Linked DNA regions of Homo sapiens: all the other regions are linked to region 3. The links come from fine-mapping of genetic effects on gene expression. A gene starts in region 3. Each other region holds a variant in brackets. All regions are shown on one strand. Distances are from middle to middle.

Region 1 (2,808 bases), 40 kb after region 3:
TATCATGCCTGGCTGTGATACTTCTTATTGGACATAATGTTGTCTTTTGATAGACTTCAGAAACACTGAGGAGATCTTACTGGCTGTGTTGCTTCTTACTGTTTTTTATTTTCAAGATTTTGGGGGGAAGGGCATGTTTATCCAAGAGGAGACACTTTACAGGTGATCTTATCAGAAATAATCTCTGAAAGAGTGTTTGAATGTATGTATAAAGGGATGTTGTTGCCCCATCTAAATGTGATAGAGTTGCATACATATATGGTAAAACTCTGATGATATGCAAGGAAATGACTGAAAAAGGAAAACCAAAAAGCAGGGTATTTGTTGTCTCTGATGAGGAGGCACAGGGAGAATGGGATAGGTGACATTTTAGTTCTTAAGCTAGATGGTAGCATCATAGTGGTTTTTATTTTTATGCTTTATGACTTACATGTACTTTACATAAATTCTTATCCTTTAAAAAATATATCAAATACTTGAAAAAAGATGAAGTAGGGGTAAAATTGGTCTTTGAAGCCAGATAAATGTAGGTTCAAATCCCAGCTCTGTTGTTTACCACTGTGTGGTCTTGGGCAAGTTACTTGTTTAACCTTTTAAATTTCACTTTACTTGTCTTTATTTTATTTGTTTATTTATGAGATGGAGTCTTGCTCTGTCGCCCAGGCTGGGGTGAAGTGGCGTAGCTCACTGCAACCTCCGCCTCCTGGGTTCAAGCGATTCTACTGCCTCAGTGTCCCGAGTAGTTAGGACTACAGGTGCACACCACCATGCCCGTTTAATTTTTGTATTTTTAGTAGAAATGGGGTTTCACCATGTTGGCCAGGCTGATCTTGAACTCCTGACCTCAAGTATCTGCCCCCCTTGGCCTCCCAAAGTGCTGGGATTACAGGCATGAGCTACCATGCTCAGCCGCTTTACTTGTCTTTAAAATGGAGATTGCAGGATTGTTTCAAGAATTAGCGTAATAGATCTGAAGCTCCAAGCACTGTTCACACAAAGTATGAGTTATTTAAATATTAGCTATTAACACTGTTAAGAATAGGAACAGTGTAGTTCAAATTTTGAAATCTTATTTGGATTTCTTTTCCAGAGCCTGCAGTTTGTAACATAAATTTAGATGTTTTAAGGAAATCAGCATTGTGGGATTGGATAGGATTTAGAATGGAAACTAAATAGGAATTGATTTATGTTTTTGTTTGTTTGTAATTTAGGTGGGAGACCTACCTGATGCAGATATTAAACCTCCAGAAAATGTACTGTTTGTGTGTAAATTGAACCCAGTGACCACAGATGAGGATCTGGAAATAATATTCTCTAGATTTGGGCCAATAAGAAGGTAATCCTTAGAATTAGTGAAAGAGATATTTAGAAAAACTAGGTATCAGTTGGTGGTTTTCTAATGACATATTTTGATGATTCTGTGAATTCTAGGCGAATTTTGTACTGGTGAATTTTTACAGGTGAGTCTTTGGACAGTAGGGAAGAAAAGTATATATGTGTGTGTAGACATACATACATACGTGCACACACACA[C/T]ACAGATAAATAATTGAATCTCCCACTCTCAACACATTTTCACCCTAAAACAGGAAATGAATGGAACAATTTAAATCTAGTTCTGTAATACTCTCAACAGCCTTCTTTAATATTTAAAATATTTATCTCATTCAACTCCTGGAATTACCAGCAATTTATGTCAAAATTAATTTAAAACTAAATTTTCTAAAATTTTTCTTTTGGTTAGTTTTCCCTGCATTAATGAAAAAGTCTATGAAGCTAGTATTTCTGTGAGGAAGGGGACTATTTTGTAATTGATTAAAAAGTATTATATTTAGGGTTTCCTTTTGTTTCAGGGATTTTATTTTATTTTATTTATTTTTGTTTATTTTTTTGACATGGAGTCTCGCTCTGTTGCCCAGGCTGGAGTGCAGTGATGTGATCTCGGCTCACTGCAACCTCTGCCTCCCGGGTTCAAGTGATTCTTCTGCCTCAGCCTCCTGAGTAGCTGGGACTACAGGCATGCGCCAACACGCCCAGCTAATTTTTGTATTTTTAGTAGAGACGGGGTTTCACCATATTGGCCAAGCTGGTCTCGAGCTCCTGACCTTGTGATCCGTCCGTCTTGGCCTCCCAAAGGGCTGGGGTTATAGGTATGAGCCACTGCGCCCGGCTTTTAAAATGAGGTTTTTAAAATGAGACTTATGACACTTGGGGCAAGGGACAAGCCAGGTGCTTTCAACTTCAGCTTATTGGCCTTTTCACTTGGTTATTATGGTATATTAGTTCTGTAATTAACATTGTGCTTACAGTGTTAAATTTGAGCTTGATTTATATTAAAATTCAAAAATTTCAAAGCTTGAACTTAAACATTTATATATGTATGAGTATGCATACATTATTCTACAGTAATGTTAGATGTTAGATATTCTATAATTCGACTATATTTGGACTAGAAAAGTGTTGTGATTTTAAAAGTCTTTAGCAGTAGTTTACTTTTGCCAAAGGAAAATTAAATATTTTTATTCTTACTTCAGTGCTTAAGGGAATTTAGGACTGTAGGCCTATATAAGGCACTTAGAGTAGAATTTAGATAATTTAGTTACTGCTCTGGTGAACTACTTTTAAAAAAGAATTGTTATTAAATGAATTTGGAAAAATAATCTATGAATTTAACTTTGCCTTGTAGTAACTGACTTATTTCTTCTTCAGTTTTGAAGAGTGAGAGTGAATGCTTTCTTCCTTTTTTTTTTTTTTAAGTCACTTTTAAATACTTTCTTTCAGTTGTGAAGTTATCCGAGACTGGAAGACAGG
Region 2 (2,808 bases), 25 kb before region 3:
TTGCAGTATATATATATATATATATTTTTTTTTTTTTTTTTGAGACAGAGCCTTGCTCTGTCGCCCAGGCTGGAGTGCAGTGGTGTGATCTCGGCTCACTGCAAGCTCTGTCTCCCGGGTTCACACCAATTCTCCTGCCTCAGCCTCCCGAGTAGCTGGGCCTACAGGTGCCCCCCACCACGCCCGGCTAATTTTTTGTATTTTTTTTTTTTTTAGTAGAGACGAGGTTTCACCGTGTTGGCCAGGATGGTCTCGATCTCCTGACCTCGTGATCTGCCCACCTCGGCCTCCCAAAGTGCTGGGATTACAGGCATGAGCCACTGTGCCCGGCCAGTAAAAATATTTTTTAATGAAACAACAGAAAGTATCACATAGAGGGCCAGGCGCGGTGGCTCATGCCTGTAATCCCAGCACTTTGGGAGGCCAAGGCAGGCAGATCACAAGGTCAGGAGATCGAGACCATCCTGGCTAACATGGTGAAACCCCATCTCTACTAAAAATACAAAAAATTAGCCGGGCATAGTAGCGGGCGCCTGTAGTCCCAGCTACTCGGGAGGCTGAGGCAGGAGAATGGCATGAACTCGGGAGACGGAGCTTGCAGTGAGCCGAGATTGCGCCACTGCACTCCAGCCTAGGCGACAGAGCCAGACTCCATCTCAAAAAAGTATCACATAGAGATGAGTTATATGTACTCGTTCACATTGTAAAATATTAATATGTCAATATGAGTGATGGTTAAAAAAGGTAATAAAACACTTTTAGGGTAAACAGCACTATATCTAGAACCACAAGACCAAGGGCACAGTCTAATTCATGACATCAATGGACTCATTCAATTTGAGCCATGGTTTCAGCCAGTGTAAATGAAAGTATACCTACTCCTGCATCTCAGCCATTCTTACCTGGGCAAAGGTTTTATATCAGTGTAACCAAAACAGCTATACTTTTTTCCTCAAAAAAAAAAAAAAAAAGTTTATTTTAGAGTGAGAACATGTCATACTACTTTTAAATCTTGGAGCATTCAAGGTAAGTAGTCTTGGTACAGGATACAATCAAATCATGATACACTTCAGTGATTTTATACTGAGTCACATACTTAATATAAAGGCACACTGTACTGAATAAAAAAATAAGTGTTAAGTTCTTGACCTTTTAAATTAGAATTTTATAAAGTGCTTTTCATAAAGTCTTATATATTATAGTAATTAAGTGGATATAATTTCCTTAACAAAGGCACCTTGAAAAGTTATTGGCACATGAGATTTTGTCTGGTCTTTTTTTTTTCTTTTGATAATTTCAAAGTCTCTTCACATGTGTTCTCTTCCACTTTAAGTTTTCCTTAACAATTCATCATATGAATAGCCAGCCCTTTTAGAGAATAAGGTCAACTTTTTTTTTTTTGAAACAGAGTCTCGCTCTGTCACCCAGGCTGGAGTGCAGTGGCGTGATCTTGGCTCACTGCAGCCTCCGCCTCCCGGGTTCAAGCAATTCTCCTGCCTCAGCCTCCCAAGTAGCTGGGACTACAGGCGTGCACCGCCACACCCAGCTAATTTTTTTATTTTTTTTAGTAGAGAC[AGG/G]GTTTCACCATGTTGGCAGGATGGTCTTGATCTGACCTCGTGATCCGCCCGCATTGGCCTCCCAAAGTCCTGGGATTACAGGCATGAGCCACTGCACCCGGCCGAGAATAAGGTAAACTTTAACTTGGCACTGTAAAGGTCAATTTTCAGGCAGTCTTAGAGTTTAGCAATTTCTCTAGTGTATAAACTGATTCTTAACGATTTAAAGAAAATTATATTCAAGTGGCAAATTTGGAGGCAACAGGCTACTTCGGAGTCCATGATATGAGATGGCGTTTTAAATACATGTTTTATCTTCAAGGTTTTCAGCTCTTTTCTCTGGACCATCTGGATATAAGTTGATAGCTGTCACAGGTATGACGTCCACTTTATCCAACTGAAGAATTCCTCTGAAATAGAAAGTGATTAATTACTATCAAAATTAAATGTTTCCTCTGCCTGTAGTTTGATAGTGAGAAAAGGCTACTTCAAGGTTATAATATACACCTAAGGTTAGGTGCTTTTGCTACATTCTATTTAAAAATTCATAGTGGTTGTACAAACTGAGCCCAAAGTCACTTTAACCAAACTGGCTGAGAGAATAGAAAGGCATCGAGGAAGTTCATTATTTCCTATTTTAGGGAAGAATAGGGTAAGTATAGATCTCCAAGGCAGAGTTAGGTTCCTAGATACACCCAGGCTGAGCAAAAAGCCTAAGCCTAAGCCTCTCTCTAAATAATACTCACCACCACAACACAACCTTAGGTCTTTAGATAGTGTTGCTCTTTTTGTTACTTAAAATCCCTGACCAGAGAGTACGTCTTTGGATTGAATCTAGGACCCTGCATTGTAAATTCAGTGTTATTCTAATAAGAACATCAACGGGGGTTAGTTGTTTATAGAACCAAACAGATTCTAAAGTTCACAGGGGAGTAACTGCAAGAACAGCCATAAGATTTTTTTTAAAAGAACAATGGGGAGAAGACAAAGTTGTCTTAAGTAGCTCTCAAAGGTTTTATTAAAACATGATAGTAGGCCAGGTGTAGGGGCTCACACCTATAATCCCAGCACTTTGGGAGGCCAAGGCGGGCAGATCACTTGAGCCCAGGAGTTCAAGATCAGCCTGGGAAACATGGCAAAACCCCATCTCTACTAAAAATAGAAAAAATTAGCTGGGCATGGGACACATGCAGTCCCAGCTAGCTAGCTATTCAGGAGGCTGAGGTGGGAGGATCGCTTGAACCCGGGAAGT
Region 3 (2,647 bases):
TTAGAGTGTTCATATTCAAGTCTTGACTAGGAAGAGGTGTACCGACATAGTTTCTTGTCATTCTCAGAACACTTGCTCTTTAAAATATTCAAACTTTTCCCTACCATTCTACTGAAAAAAGGCTGATACTGGCCTAGGTAGGCACGACTCTACGGCAGGAATGGTGAGCATCAGCCACGTTTTAATGTTAGGATGCCTCGATTCTCCCACCTCAGCTGGCATCAGAAGCACCTGCAGGACTCTCCAACCCGGACTGCTGGGCCCCGCCCCCAGAGGCCGGGCTGAGTCCCCAGGGGATGCGGACACCGCCGATCGCGCCCCGCCGTGAGAACTTCTCCTCCAACATCCGACAAAAACATTACGTCGCGCGAGGGCCAGGTCTCTCCCTCTGCCCACCTGAGCCCGGCGGAGCCCCGCAGCCTCGGAACGGCGGACCCTCGCGATCGCAGGCCGAGCAGGCACAAGTGGCCTGGAAATGCGCGAAGTGGGCAACTTCCACACTTCCCGAGCACACAAACATTCCTTGCCCAAGCGCTGGCTCTACCCCGGGAAGGCGCCATTACGAAGGCCTGATCACCGGCAACCGCGCGCTTCGACGGCAAAGCCCCGTCAGGTCGCGCGCCGGCTTGGGCCGCCGGAGAGTCGGTGTGGAGTGGCTCGAGGCTCACTCACAGCGACGCAGCCCCAGTGGGTCCCTTTCCTCTTACCTCGGCCTCCCACGCCGCCCCCATTTCCTGGGGTGCTTCTCCCCACACCTCCTTCGGGGGCCCGGACCCCCGCCCCTGCCCGCCGGTGGGATGTGGGAAGCGTCACTGTGGACAGCCCGGGCCTCCCGGAGAGTCGGAGTCGTAAAGCGGCCAGCCAGGCCCGCCCTGCCCTACCTGTGGGGCTCCGGACAGCGGCGGCGGCTCGGGGGCGCCCGTCGTCAGCCAGCCGGAGGCGGGTAGCGCCACGAACAGCAGGAGCCGGAGGGCGAGCGACCCCGGTGGAGCGCCCTCCATCTTGGACAACCCGGGCAGAGGGCAGCCGCGGCCGGGAGGTGAGGGCGGAGCCGGCCCGCGGGCGGGACGGAGCTTCGGCGGGAGGGACGGGGAGGGGCGGGGAGAGACGGGGAGGGGCGGGACGGGCCCTCCCCTCCCCGGGCGGCCGCGGAGAGGCGCGGGGACGCTCCGAGATCCGGCTCGCCAGGGAAAGGCGTTTGCGCACGCGCAGCGCCGCGCGGCGTCGAGGGGCGGAGTGAAATCTTGGAAGGTACGGCCCCTCATTAGACCCGCCCTCAGGATTGGACAGGACTCCAACTGGAGCGATGTAAATGTCCTCGTAACCATTATTTTTAAAATTAGTATTTACACACATGCATGTGTCTGTGTGTGCACATGTACATGTACCTATACGATGAAAACAACGGTAATATTTCAGAAAACTGTTATACATTAAAAATGAAACATCGCATTTACAGGGGAAGTTTTTATTAAGTGGGTAATTCCCCACCCTTGGCTGCACGTGGGACTCTCCCGGGCAGCTTTAAAAAGTACTGGGGTCTTCCTGAACACCCCACTTTCCAGCCTGGGCTGCGGCTCGGGCCCTGGTGGTTTTTTAATTTTCTCGGGTGATTCATTGTGGGGCCAAGGTTGAGGATGCGCCATGCTTACTGTTCAGCATTCTGCCGACCCCTGGAGGCGGCGCGGGGACAGCGCTCAGCTGGAAGGAAGCCAGCGCACCTGGGCTGTCAGTGCCTTTTTGGTCAGTATCGTAACTCTAAAGTGAAAGTGTTAGACTTTTCTTCCACCTTGCAGATTTAAAAAAAAAAAAAAGTTACGGAACCCTGTAAAGCAGAGTAGCAAGAAATTCAAGCATTTTAGATTAACAGGATTGCATGTTGATTGAGAAAAACTTGGAAACTTGGCCATTCAGGCAGAATAAGAGTAATATTTAGTCTTCCTTTGAAATAAAACTTTTGACATGAAATAAAACTTTTGACATGAAAAAGGAAACAAGAATCTATTTCTCTCTTTGAGCCCCCTTTACTCCTTTGAACACCCTCCTCCCACAGGCCTGCTGACCGCCACCGCCCCCTCCCCCGGCCCCGCCCCAGAATAAATTATAAACGTTTTGGCTAAAGACTCCTTTCAACTAACTCCGGGCTTACTCTGAGATTCCCCACGCCATTGTTAAGCTACAAGTGATTTCACAGCGAAGCCCCACACACTTCTGGGTTCCATCTGCAAACTTGGCCTTTTCCTTTTTTTCCTACTGCTGGAATTAAAAATGAATTTGGAGATGGGCGTGGTCATTTGTGCCTGTACTCCCAGCTATGCAGCAAACGCAGGCAGGAGGATCGCCTGAGTCTATTAAAAAAAAAAAAAAAAAAAGGAATCTAGAAGCCGGGTGCAGTGGCTCACGCCTGTAATCCCAACACTTTAGGAGGCCGAGGCGGGTGGATCACTTGAGGTCAGGAGTTCGAGAATAGCCTGGCCAACATGGTGAAACCCCATCTCTACTAAAAATACAAAAATTATCCAGGCATACTGGCACGCACCTGTAATTCCAGCTACTAGGGAGGCTGAGGCAGGAGAATCGCTTGAACCCAGGAGGCGAAGGTTGCAGTGAGCCAAGATCGCGCCATTGCACTCCAGCCTGCGCGGTG

Evidence for each region.
Region 1: its variant is fine-mapped to the expression of GINM1 in whole blood (INTERVAL, PIP above 0.99).
Region 2: its variant is fine-mapped to the expression of GINM1 in whole blood (TOPMed, PIP above 0.99). The same link has a PIP of 0.9 or more in lung.

Annotation. Positions count from the first base shown.
Region 1 is chr6:149,525,180-149,527,987 of GRCh38, reverse strand. It overlaps PPIL4 (peptidylprolyl isomerase like 4), which reads left to right. Exons shown (of 13, transcript NM_139126.4): 8 at 1,212-1,336; 9 at 2,779-2,808. Among named protein-coding and RNA genes, the nearest start is that of PPIL4, 19 kb to the left of the region's middle. The variant C/T (reference allele first, on the strand shown) is at 1,534.
Region 2 is chr6:149,589,885-149,592,692 of GRCh38, reverse strand. GINM1 (glycosylated integral membrane protein 1) reads right to left here. Exons shown (of 8, transcript NM_138785.5): 8 at 945-1,966. The coding sequence ends at 1,855. Among named protein-coding and RNA genes, the nearest start is that of GINM1, 25 kb to the right of the region's middle. The variant AGG/G (reference allele first, on the strand shown) is at 1,576.
Region 3 is chr6:149,564,769-149,567,415 of GRCh38, reverse strand. GINM1 (glycosylated integral membrane protein 1) reads right to left here and starts at 1,041. Exons shown (of 8, transcript NM_138785.5): 1 at 882-1,041. The coding sequence starts at 1,001. RefSeq lists enhancers at 445-494, 1,745-1,874 and a silencer at 765-1,314.